Regions from separate parts of the Homo sapiens genome. Here region 2 is linked to region 1. A link means that fine-mapping ties the variant in region 1 to the expression of a gene that starts in the linked region. Tissue or cell type: whole blood. Region 1 holds a variant in brackets; the other region holds the start of a gene. All regions are shown on one strand. Distances are between the middles of the regions.

Region 1 (5,375 bases):
AAGATCAAGACCCGCGATGGGAAGCTGGCGTCCGAGTCCTCTGACATTCTGCCCAAGTGAACAGCTGCGACAGCCCCTCCCAGCCTGCCCCTCCTGTGGCTGCCCCAGAGCCGGGGAGGGAGGCCGCTGTGCAGGGGAGCAAAGGGAACAGGAGACCCACCTGAGGCTCACCCCTAGCTCTCAGCCCACCCACGGGGGAGTTTACTGCCTGGGGACACCCTTTGCCCATGCCTCCAGCTACAAAACAATTCAACTGCTTTTTTTTTTTTTTTTTTTTGTACAAAATAAAACCTCAGCTAGCTCTTTCAAAAAAAAAAAATCAGTCCCACAAGGTCCCATCAGTCTCATTCTGCAGGCCAATGAGGATTTTCTTCATATTTTCAATGTGTTGAGAAGAATCTGCAGAATGTTAGGACATATATAGACAGATGAAAATACTCACACAAGGAGTAAGAAAACCTTCAGAGGAGGCAAATTTGCAAAGCAAGAACTGTGCCCCTCCCCAGTTCTAAGTCAACAACCACCCCATTAAGAGTCTATCTTAATTCTGGGGCTGTCAGCAGGTTTCCTTTCGCCTGCTCTTATTTGTTCATTTTATGGAACACAGTAGTCTGCCTTTTTTTTCATGTCTAAACTCATTTCCTGTTGAGAAAGTTCATAACCATGGCACAACAGTAATCATCTTGCATAAGTTACTCAGCTCCTTTCTGCTCTTGTTTCCTCATCTCCAAAATAAGAATAAAAATAATACTTCTTTTATAAGGTTGTGTTGAGGATCAAAATAGCTAATATATGTTAAACCCTTGGAACAGTTCCCGGACTATAATCACTGCTATATAAATGTTTGCCATCATCCTTCTTGGATGGTTTCAGTGCCCCTCGGTTACCTTTGCCATGACTCTTATTTATTTATTTATTTATTTTTTGAGATGGAGTCTTGCTCTGTTGCCAGGCTGGAGTGCAGTGGCGGGATCTCGGCTCACTGCAACCTCCGCCTCCTGGGTTCAAGCAATTCCCCTGCCTCAGCCTCCCGAGTAGCTGGGACTACAGGCATGTGCCACCACATCCAGCTAATTTTTTGTATTTTAGTAGAGATGGGGTTTCACCATGTTGGCCAGGATGGTCTCAATCTCCTGACCTCATGATCTGCCCACCTTCTGCTCCCAAAGTACTGGAATTACAGGCGTGAGACAGTGCGCCCAGCCCCCAGGACTCTTATTTTCTAAATCCTATTAGAACATCTTCTTTTTCTTTTTTTTAAAGTCAGGATCTCACTCTGTCATCCAGGCTGGAGGGTGGTAGCACAATCATAGCTCACTGTCACCTGCAACTCCTGGGCTCTAGTGATCCTCCCACCTCAGCCCCACTGAGTAGCTGAGACTACAGGTGCATGCCACTACATGGGGCTAATGTATTAATTTTTTTTGTAGAGATGGAATCTTGCTATGTTGCCCAGGCTGGTCTTGAACTCCTGGCTTCAAGAGATCATCCCATATCAGCCTCCCAAAGTGTTGGGATTTCAGGTGTGAGCCACTGCACCAGCCCTATTAGAACAAATTTCTAAATTATATGGGAATGTACAAAAACAAAAGATAAATCTGCCTGTAGAACCTTAAAACAGTTTCATGGTCCTCATAAGGTTCTTCATATTCAGGAGAGCGGGCATTGCAACATGTAAAGCCTATCTCGAAGAAAGAGACTTTTGCCCAAAGTCTATATAGACTAAGCCTCTGTCTACATTATGTCTTCTTCTCAAATCACCTCCTTGACTTCATATTACCATAATAATCCACATCCCATTATAAACTTTTAGCTTTTAGCCAGATAGGCTGTTTTGCAAAAGAGGAAGGCAATGGGGGGCTTTTGATGTTACTTTTCAGGAGTAGTTTTCCTTACCTTCTTCCTGTTGGGCCCCTGGGATCTTATCTGCCTTTAAGTGTTATAATAATTCCAGGTGCATTAGAGTATCCAATATGCCACTGAAATCTACCTCTCCCCTGATATTAACCATACACCAAATAAAAGCAGCACATAATAAAATCATCCACATCCCAAAATAGAAAAAGCACCCAAATTGTTTAAATTTTACATAGGGAGTAAGTTGTATCACACTCTATGCTAACCATGTTTATAACCATTTATGCTTGCACATATGTAATTTAAACAGCTATTATTGAGCATCTGCTCCATGTATGTCAGGCACTAGACTGGGCACTGGCAACATACTGGAACAATAACAGGGGTGGTTCTGTTGGGGAGGCAGCTAAGACAGACCAAACAGTGGGAGTCCCAGAGGTTTACTCAATAATCATGCTAATTAATACAAGCAAACCTTCCAACTGAGTTCAGTGTTCCAGGTAAAAAGGAATGTAATACAAAAAGCTGACCTGGGCTTGTGGGTCATGGAAAATTTCTCTGCGGAAGAGACATATGACAAATAAAGAATTGTGAAGTTACCCAAGGTAAGAGAAGAAAGAACATATCATGAAGCTAGATCAGGAAGCACAAAGGCCCTATGGTGGGAAAGAAGATGGCCAGTAAAAGATGCGTGAGTCATTCATGA[G/A]ACAGGAACCACTGGCAGAAGACAGGATTTGTGGGGGAAGAGCCTCAGTTCAGTCTGGGACATGAGGTGTCTGAAATACCTTTGAGACATATCAAGGGAAAATATGAAATAGGTGGTTGGATATATACATCTGGAACTCAAAGGAAATGTCTGAGCCAAAGACATAACTAGATATAAATAGCTTACAGATAGCAGTTAAAATTAATGATCTTGGATACAGTTGCCTGGAAAGAAAGCATATAATGAAAAAAGACCACCTTGACAGACTTCACTTTTAATGGCTGAGTAGCAGATAAGCCCACCAACTAGGTTAAGAAGGAGCATCAGAGAGGTAGAAAGGACACCAGGAGAATGTGGTAGCACCCAAGGCAAGGGGAGGAAGAGCTGCAAGAAGGTGGAAGTTGTTAATAGTATTTAAGAACATTGCTGAATCATGTAGTAAAATAAGGTCTGAACATCATTGGATGTATTTGAGGACAGGGAGATCACTGTTGACTTTATCAGAGCTGGTTCAGGGCAGTGATTGTGGGAATGGGAGAGTGATGGGCCATGACATTCAGCCTTAAATAGGTTGAGGAAAGATTGGGAGTTAAGAAAGTGGAGACAAAAATTTTAGGCATCTCTTTCAAGAAATCTGGTTGTGAAGGAGAAAAGAGATATGCAGTGGTGGGATAAAAAGTGATTTGAGTAGCTGTTTGCCTGGATTGGCAACCTGAGCCGCCCCACCCTTCCCGTGCAGCGATCTGGGTGCAGAGGGGCCCTCTCCACTCCATGCCAGACAGATCTCCAGGCATTCAGACACCTGCTCACTGGAACAGCAGTCTGAGTCACCCCAATCTTCCTGTGCGGAGATCCTGGTGCAGGAGGCCCTCCCCACTCTACACCCAGGCAGAATCTCCATGCGTCTGAAGCACCTACCCTCCTGGGTTAGAAGTTTAGGCTGACCCCAATCTCCAGGCAGAGAACTCAGGGATGAGGAGGTCTTGCAGCTCCATGCCGAGGCACACCTCTGGATGCGAGGTGGCCATCCACTGGATTCTCCCTCAGTGCTGGTACTTGTGCCTGCCATCAGGGGACCTACAGGTGGACCTGCCTGGTCTGGCCCTGCCCATCTTGCTTCCTCCCCTCCACTGGGGCTGAAGAGGGAGCTCAGACCACCGTGCACTCCATGAATCAACCCATTTCCTGAGGCAAGCGAGAGCTTCTTCCAGTAAAAAAAAAAAAAATGCTATGTGGATGGGATCACATATATTCCCATCCACATAGCATTTTTTTTGAGACAGGTTTTCACTCTGTCACCCTGAGTGTAGTGGTGTGATCATGGCTTACTGCAGCCTTGACCTCCCGGGCTCAAGCAATCATCCCACCTCACTGTCCCAAGTAGCTGGGACCCACAGGCACATGCCACCATGACCAGCAATTTTTTTCATTTTTTGTAGAGACAGGGTCTCGCTATGTTGCCCAGGCTGTTCTTGAACTCCTGGACTGAAGGGATCCTACTTCCTCTGGCTCCCAAAATGCTGAGATTACAGATACGAGCCACCATGCCGGGCCACACAGCCAGCTCTTACCCATAAGCGCCATCTATTGGCTTGTAGGTCAAATTGCACAGCCCAATATAAAACCTGGTGACAGAAGAGCATAGGGCTACGCAAGCAAAGCCAAAAGACCCTACCCAGCATTCTCTACAGTCACACACCCTGGGGTGGGAAGGAAGGAAAGGGAAAGAAGAAAAAAACAATAATATTATTGGAAAAAAGGAAAGAAAAAGAAAAAATTCTACCTGCATGAAAATAGTTACTAAAATTAGAAGGGCAAGCATCTCTAGATGAAAAGGAACTAGTGCAAGAAACCTGGCAAAATCTGAATGTAGTGACAGTACCAAAGGATCACACTAGCTCCCCAGCAATAGTCCCTAACTAAAATGGAAACTCAGAAATGATAGCTAGATAGATAAATAATTCAAGGCATGGATTGCAAGTAAGCAGCAATGAGATCCAAGACAAGGTTGAAAGTCAACAAAAAGACATTTCTAAAGCAATCCAGGAAAGGAAGGAAGAGGTAAACATCTTCAAAAGAAATCAACCAGAACTTCTGGAATTGAAAAACTCACCTAAGGAATTTCAAACTACAATTGAAATCTTTATGAACAGACTGCACCAAGCAGAAGAAAGAATTTCAAAGCTTGAAGACTGATTTTTTGAACTACCCAGTTAGATAAAAATAAAGAGAAGAGAATTTTTTAAAATGAACACAGTTTTCAAGAAATATTGGATTATGTGAAGTGACCAAAATTATGAATTACTGGACATTAACAATAGATACAGAAGAGAAGAAAACAACCATGAAAACATTTGAGGCAATAATTCAAGAAAAGTTCCTAATCTTGCTAGAGAGATAGACATCCAGATACAAGAAATCTAGAGAACACATGTGAGATAGTGTACAAACTAAACATCATCAATGCATATAGTCACCAGACTGCCCAAAGTCAATGCTAAAGAAAAAAATCTTAAAGGCAGCAAAAGAAAAAGGTCAGATCACATACAAAAAGAACCCCATCAGGCTAACAGTAGACTTCTCAGAAGAAACCTTACAAGCCAGGAGAGATTGGAGGCCTATTTTCAGTATTCTTAAAGAAAAGAAATTCCAACCAAGAATTTCATATCCTGCCAAACTAAGCTCTATAAGCAAAGGAGAAATAAAATATTTTCCAGACAAGCAAGTACTAACGGAATTCATTACCAGTAGACCTTCCTTACAAGAGATCCTTCAGGAATTTCTCAACATGAGAACAAAATAATGATACCTA
Region 2 (5,316 bases), 27 kb before region 1:
TCTCTTTGTGCCAAGCATATCCTGATGCTACACAGACTCAGAAAGGGGGGCAGAACTCACCCTGGGGAAGAGCCTATACTCTCAGCCTCTTAGTGTTTGAACCTCTATACTAGGTGCGGCAGGCACTTTTCATCAGCACCTTTCCCCAGTGAAGAAAATAGGACGCTTGAAACCCCCAAGAGGGTCTCTCACCCCCGCTCCCATAGAAGACTGACCACCATCCACAACTGCAGTCATAAAGTACACTTGACCTTGATCGTGAAAAAGTGAGTTTTGACAATTCACAGGACTTGAATGCTCCGTAAGAGATTAGGTTTTCTTTTCATTTATTTTGAGCATATTAACAGCTGGTGACCTAGATTAAGAAATAATTCAATATGTGAAAAGGCAGACCATATCACTAAATTCCTTCACAGATGGAAAGTGGATTCAGTGAAAAGCCTCAGACCGAAGAGTCAAGTAATTACTTGGAAGGCAGGAGGAGGAGTACCTACAAGTGGGTAAAATGAAGTGTGGAAAAAGGATGACAAAACCTGGCCCAGATCCCAAGCCAGCAGATCCCTGGCTACTTTCTGCACAAGTAACCCGGGCCTGGAAGGCAGCAGGCAGCCTTGCTAATTCAGCTGCGGAGGGAGAGGCAGGAGGAGGATCACTTTAGTTCAGGATGAGCTTGGGTAGATATTAAAAGAAATACAATCCTCTTACTGCATGGAGAGTGTGCATGTGTGGAGGGAGGGACTAGAGGCAGCCACCAAGCCTCTGGGCCTGGGGACAAAAGGGATCAGTGCCCCCTCTGCTCAGCAACTCATGGTCAGCCGGAACTGGGAGGCAGCCTGAGATTGAGATTGGGTCTGAAGAGGGAAATTCATTGCCATCCTGAGCAACATGGCAAATCTGACTTCCAGTAAAACAGGAAAACGCTAAACACCCCATATCCTAGGGACGGAAAATACTGCCACGTGAAAGAGAACACAGTTCAAGTGATACCAATCATGGGGCTCATTAGCCGGTGTTGATTTTCAAGTACAATGCTCAAGCTACAATATAAAGGAAATGTCCTTTGCTCAGGACACAAATGAAGACCTCAGGGCCGTCATATACAGCAGTCACCAGGGAAGCCAGGCAAGCCTGGTGCCTGGTACAACTCCCCTCCACCTGCTTTGGGCTGTGCTTGCTACGGACCTGGGTTTCATTCATGCACGTCTCTGGGGAAAAAAAATAAATTACTGTGCGCAATTTACTGAGGGACTTGCAAAACAACAGAGAACCCAATTTGTGCAATCTGGATTTTTTAAAATGCAATAAAAGGTCCTTCTTTGTGCAGAAATATGCAGAAAGGAACTATTAGGTTCAGGTCATATTTATTTTTGACCTTCTAAAGAAGGACACTGGAGTCAAAAGGGACACAAACATATAGACCAAAATTAAAAGTGTGTATATCTAGATCTCTGTTTTGAACTCCAGAACTCACCAGACAGCACTGTGTGATCACGATCCTACCCTATTGGTCCTGGGAGATTTTTGGTGGCTTCTCTGTTAAATCGTTCGTGTCTGCTGCACTTAAGTAGCCACAAAATCCCCCGCAAGAAGGAAGGCTGCTGCAATCTCCCGCCCCGATCTGCGGGCCGCGTCCCCGCGAGCTGCCTGCGGGCGCGCTGGGAGCCGGCCCGGGGAGATGCGAGCGCAGGGAGATGCGCTCTGCTCCGGGCGCAGCGGGCAAGCTGCCGCACCTCCTACTTCTGTTGCCTGGCTTGGGGCCAGGAGAGCGGCAACCCGGGGCCGGCTCCGGAGCTGGACATATCCGGCGTCTCCGGGGCCAGGGTCTGCGGGTCCCCGGCGCTGCGTCCTCCCGACCCGCTCCCCGCGGCGCCCGGGTCGCGCCTTGCGGCAGTCACCGAGCTGAGGGCAGGGCGTCCCAGCGTCCCTGGCCCCGGCCCCGCTCCGCAGCGCGCCGCACCCCGAGGCTCGGGCCCCGCACAGCTGCAGCCGGTGCCCTCCGGCCAAGCCCCCGCCTGGCGTCCCCGGCCCCAGCCCCGGCCGCCCGCCGCTGACCTTTTCCTGCGCGCGGTTGAGTCGCTTCTGGACGTTCTTGGCGAAGATGCCCGTCTTGATGTCGGCCATGGCTGCGGGTCCGGGGAGCTGCGAAGAGCAGAGCGCGCAGCGGGGCTGGCGGCGGCGCGGAGGAGCGGGAGGAGGAGCGGGAGGAGGAGGAGAGGGCCGAGCAAGGGAGGAGCGGGAGAAGCGGCGGGGAGCCGCGGAGCGCGGAGGGGTGAGGGCGGGGCGCGGCGGCGGGACCAGCTTAAAGCGACAGAGCGGGGGCGGGATGCGTCGGGACTGGCTGTGACATGGGGAGAAGGGGCGGGGGAAGAAAGAGAAAGAGGCCAAGAAAAAGAGAGGGAAAAGCCAGAAGCCAGATTGTCTCCTCGATGATAGAAGAGTTTCGAGAGGAGAAAGGGAACCAAGCCTAGCAGAAGTCCCTGGGCCCAGGGGCAGCTCGGGGGTTCTTTTAATGCAGTTTGTATTTGGGGAGAGTGAGGGGACCTGATTCTTTCCAGCAAAAAAAGAAATAGGGGAGACAAAAAAGGGAAGAACCCTAGGGATGTGGAAGCCAGCTGGATTGGAACTGCTCTGAAGTGGAGCTGATGGGGCTGGTCCCTTGCTGCTCCCAAAAGTTTCCAGCTAACAGAGGCCCCTCCATACACCCTGGGTGTTGCAGAAGAAGGTATGGAGGTCGCCCTACCCTCAGGAGGCTCACAGCCCAGTGAGGGGCCCTGGCTGGGAAACCAACGAAGTCAGAGCTGCAGGAGAGAGGCGTGTGGAGAGCAAAGCGGGGAGAGACCATCGCTGACACTTGTTTAAACTTTAAAACAAGAGTTAGCAGGGCGGGGAGGTCCGCGTTGAGAAAGGTCAGCTTCCGGAAGACAGGCGATGTGTTTTGGTCATCTCCAAAATTCCTGTGCTGGGCAGAAACCTTAGAATAGACTACTCTTCAAGAAATGGTGCATGGAACAGTCAAGTCCCTTATAGCTTCGCATCAACCATGGAAGACCCAGTCCCCCCTAACTTGTTGCTTCCTTGGAAACCTTTTGGCAACCTTAACAGGGACTCACCATCCCTATTATTCTTATTAATGCTTGGGAGAAGTACGAATAATAGGGATAAACCTGCCCTACACCTAGAGCTCTTGTTGGCTCTGACCAGTGGTCAAACTATTCATATTCCATTCTCACTGAGAGTGTGAGGAGAAGAAGTCAGGTGGTGCCCTGCAAACAGAGGTCAGAAGTGGTCACTCACAGTGAATCCTATGAGTCCAGGTGAGCATCCTACTGTACCTCTGGGGGAAACTGTTACATTGGTAGACCTCAGCGAGCTGCCACCTGGTGTTCACTCTTGTGTCACCCTGTAGTCCCCTCACCTTGATTCTAGAATGATGCTATGGCCAGCTTTAATCAATAAGATGTGGTGAAAGTGACGCCATGGTAATTCCAGTCCCCCCCCCACCCACCCAACCTAGAAACCAGGCAAGTTTTGCCCTCTGGGGATTCCTGTGACACCATATAGGAAATTCAGCTAATTCAGCTACCCTGCTGCAAAAATAAAATAAAATAAAATAACAAGGAGAGGCCATACAGAAAGGGAGAGGCCCTGAGATTACGCAGAGAGAGAGAGAGAGAGAGAGAGCAGCCAAGATGTCCCAGCTGAGCCCATTCTCCAATCAGTTCACTGGCTGGCTGCAGCCACACAAGCAACCATCAGCAAGACCAGCAGAAGAACCACTCAGCTAATCCCAGCCAGAGTGCAGAATGTGAGCAAACAAAACAGTTTTTATGAGTCGATCACTTTTATAATGCTTTATTATAAAACAGTAGGTACCTGGAACACCTGGTCTATGTGCTTGGCTCTTATTTCCCTAGGATAAATATCTGCCCCAGTTTCCTTAGGAATTAAGGAATTTCCAGGACACAGGACTCTTAGTGCTAACAGTGGGAAAGTTCTGAGCAAATTTGGATGAGTCCTACTTATAACACTCCAAGTAAACAGAGGTTTATTTCAGAGAGATAAAAAAAAATCCACCACTTGGTCAACATTCAATGAAAAAGGCTATGCTCAGAAACCAGGAATTTGAGTCACCTCCCTCAAACAGGGGCCTTTGGGGCTGTAATGGTTATACTGAGTGTCAACTTGATTGAATTGAAGGATACAAAGTATTGATCCTGGGTATGTCTATGAGGGTGTTGCCGAAGGAGATTAACATTTGAGTCAGTGGGCTTAGAAAGGCAGACCCACCCTTAATCTGGGTGGGCACCATCTAATCAGCTGCCAGCGTGCCTAGAATATAAGCAGGCAGAAAAATGTGAAAAGAGAGACTGGCCTGGCCTCCCAGCCTACATTTTTCTCCCGTGCTAGATGCTTCCTGCCCTCGAACATCAGACTTGAATTTCTTGTTTTGGAGTTTTGGAACTCGGACTGGCTCTCCTTGCTTCTCAGCCTGCAGACAGCCTATCGTGGGACCTTGTAATCGTGTGAGTTAATACTTAAAAACACACATATATATATGTGTTCCATCAGTTCTGTCCTTCTAGAGAACCCTGACTGATACAGGGTTCAGAATCTCAGCTCTACCTTGGGATCTTGACTATGAGGATACAAGTCTCAGAATGCTGGAATACACCAGAAGTGTTCTAGAGAATATCAATCCATAGTCACTCTTGCACTGTGAGCCCCAGAGCCACCTACACTGGTTTTAGATACAGCTCCCTCTGCAGACATCACTGCCCTCCCTCTGTCAGGCAAGGGACAGGAGTTCCGAGTACCAGATTTACTTTTTTCTGCTTCCTTAGAGCTCAAGCCCTCAGTCACCAAAGTACCAGCTTTTGTCTGTCCCGTAATTATTCCCACCCCACCCAACCACATTTTTGGAACTCAATAAATATATTTTAAAATAAAATTGCAAATTATTAATTTTTCTTATTATTCAGATGCCCAAATCTAGTTCTGTAACATAGGTGGAAAAGGGAGGCTTGTCATTTCTTAATAATTCTATTTGGAATACATGCTGAGCATATTAAAAAGTTGTTACATGCAAACTGTTATCAAAACATTTCACTCCAACAGAAAGGTAAATCGGTGTCCACTTTCAGGTTGCCAGGTGGCTCATTCTAGCCATTCTGGAATATTGACTAAGCACTTTAGCTGGTATTTAGTAGCTGTTCTGTAAATATTTGTTGGAAAATGCATGTATGCATGAGAATAGCTCATGAGCATCCATCATGCAAGATACGATGATGCCTGGCATGCTAGAGTGGGGACGTACCC

What was found.
Region 2: AMPH starts here. The variant in region 1 is fine-mapped to the expression of AMPH in whole blood (TOPMed, PIP above 0.99).

What each region holds. Positions count from the first base shown.
Region 1 is chr7:38,656,554-38,661,928 of GRCh38, forward strand. It overlaps the pseudogene KRT8P20. Among named protein-coding and RNA genes, the nearest start is that of AMPH, 28 kb to the left of the region's middle. The variant G/A (reference allele first, on the strand shown) is at 2,564.
Region 2 is chr7:38,629,231-38,634,546 of GRCh38, forward strand. It overlaps AMPH (amphiphysin), which reads right to left and starts at 2,143. Exons shown (of 21, transcript NM_001635.4): 1 at 2,053-2,143. The coding sequence starts at 2,121.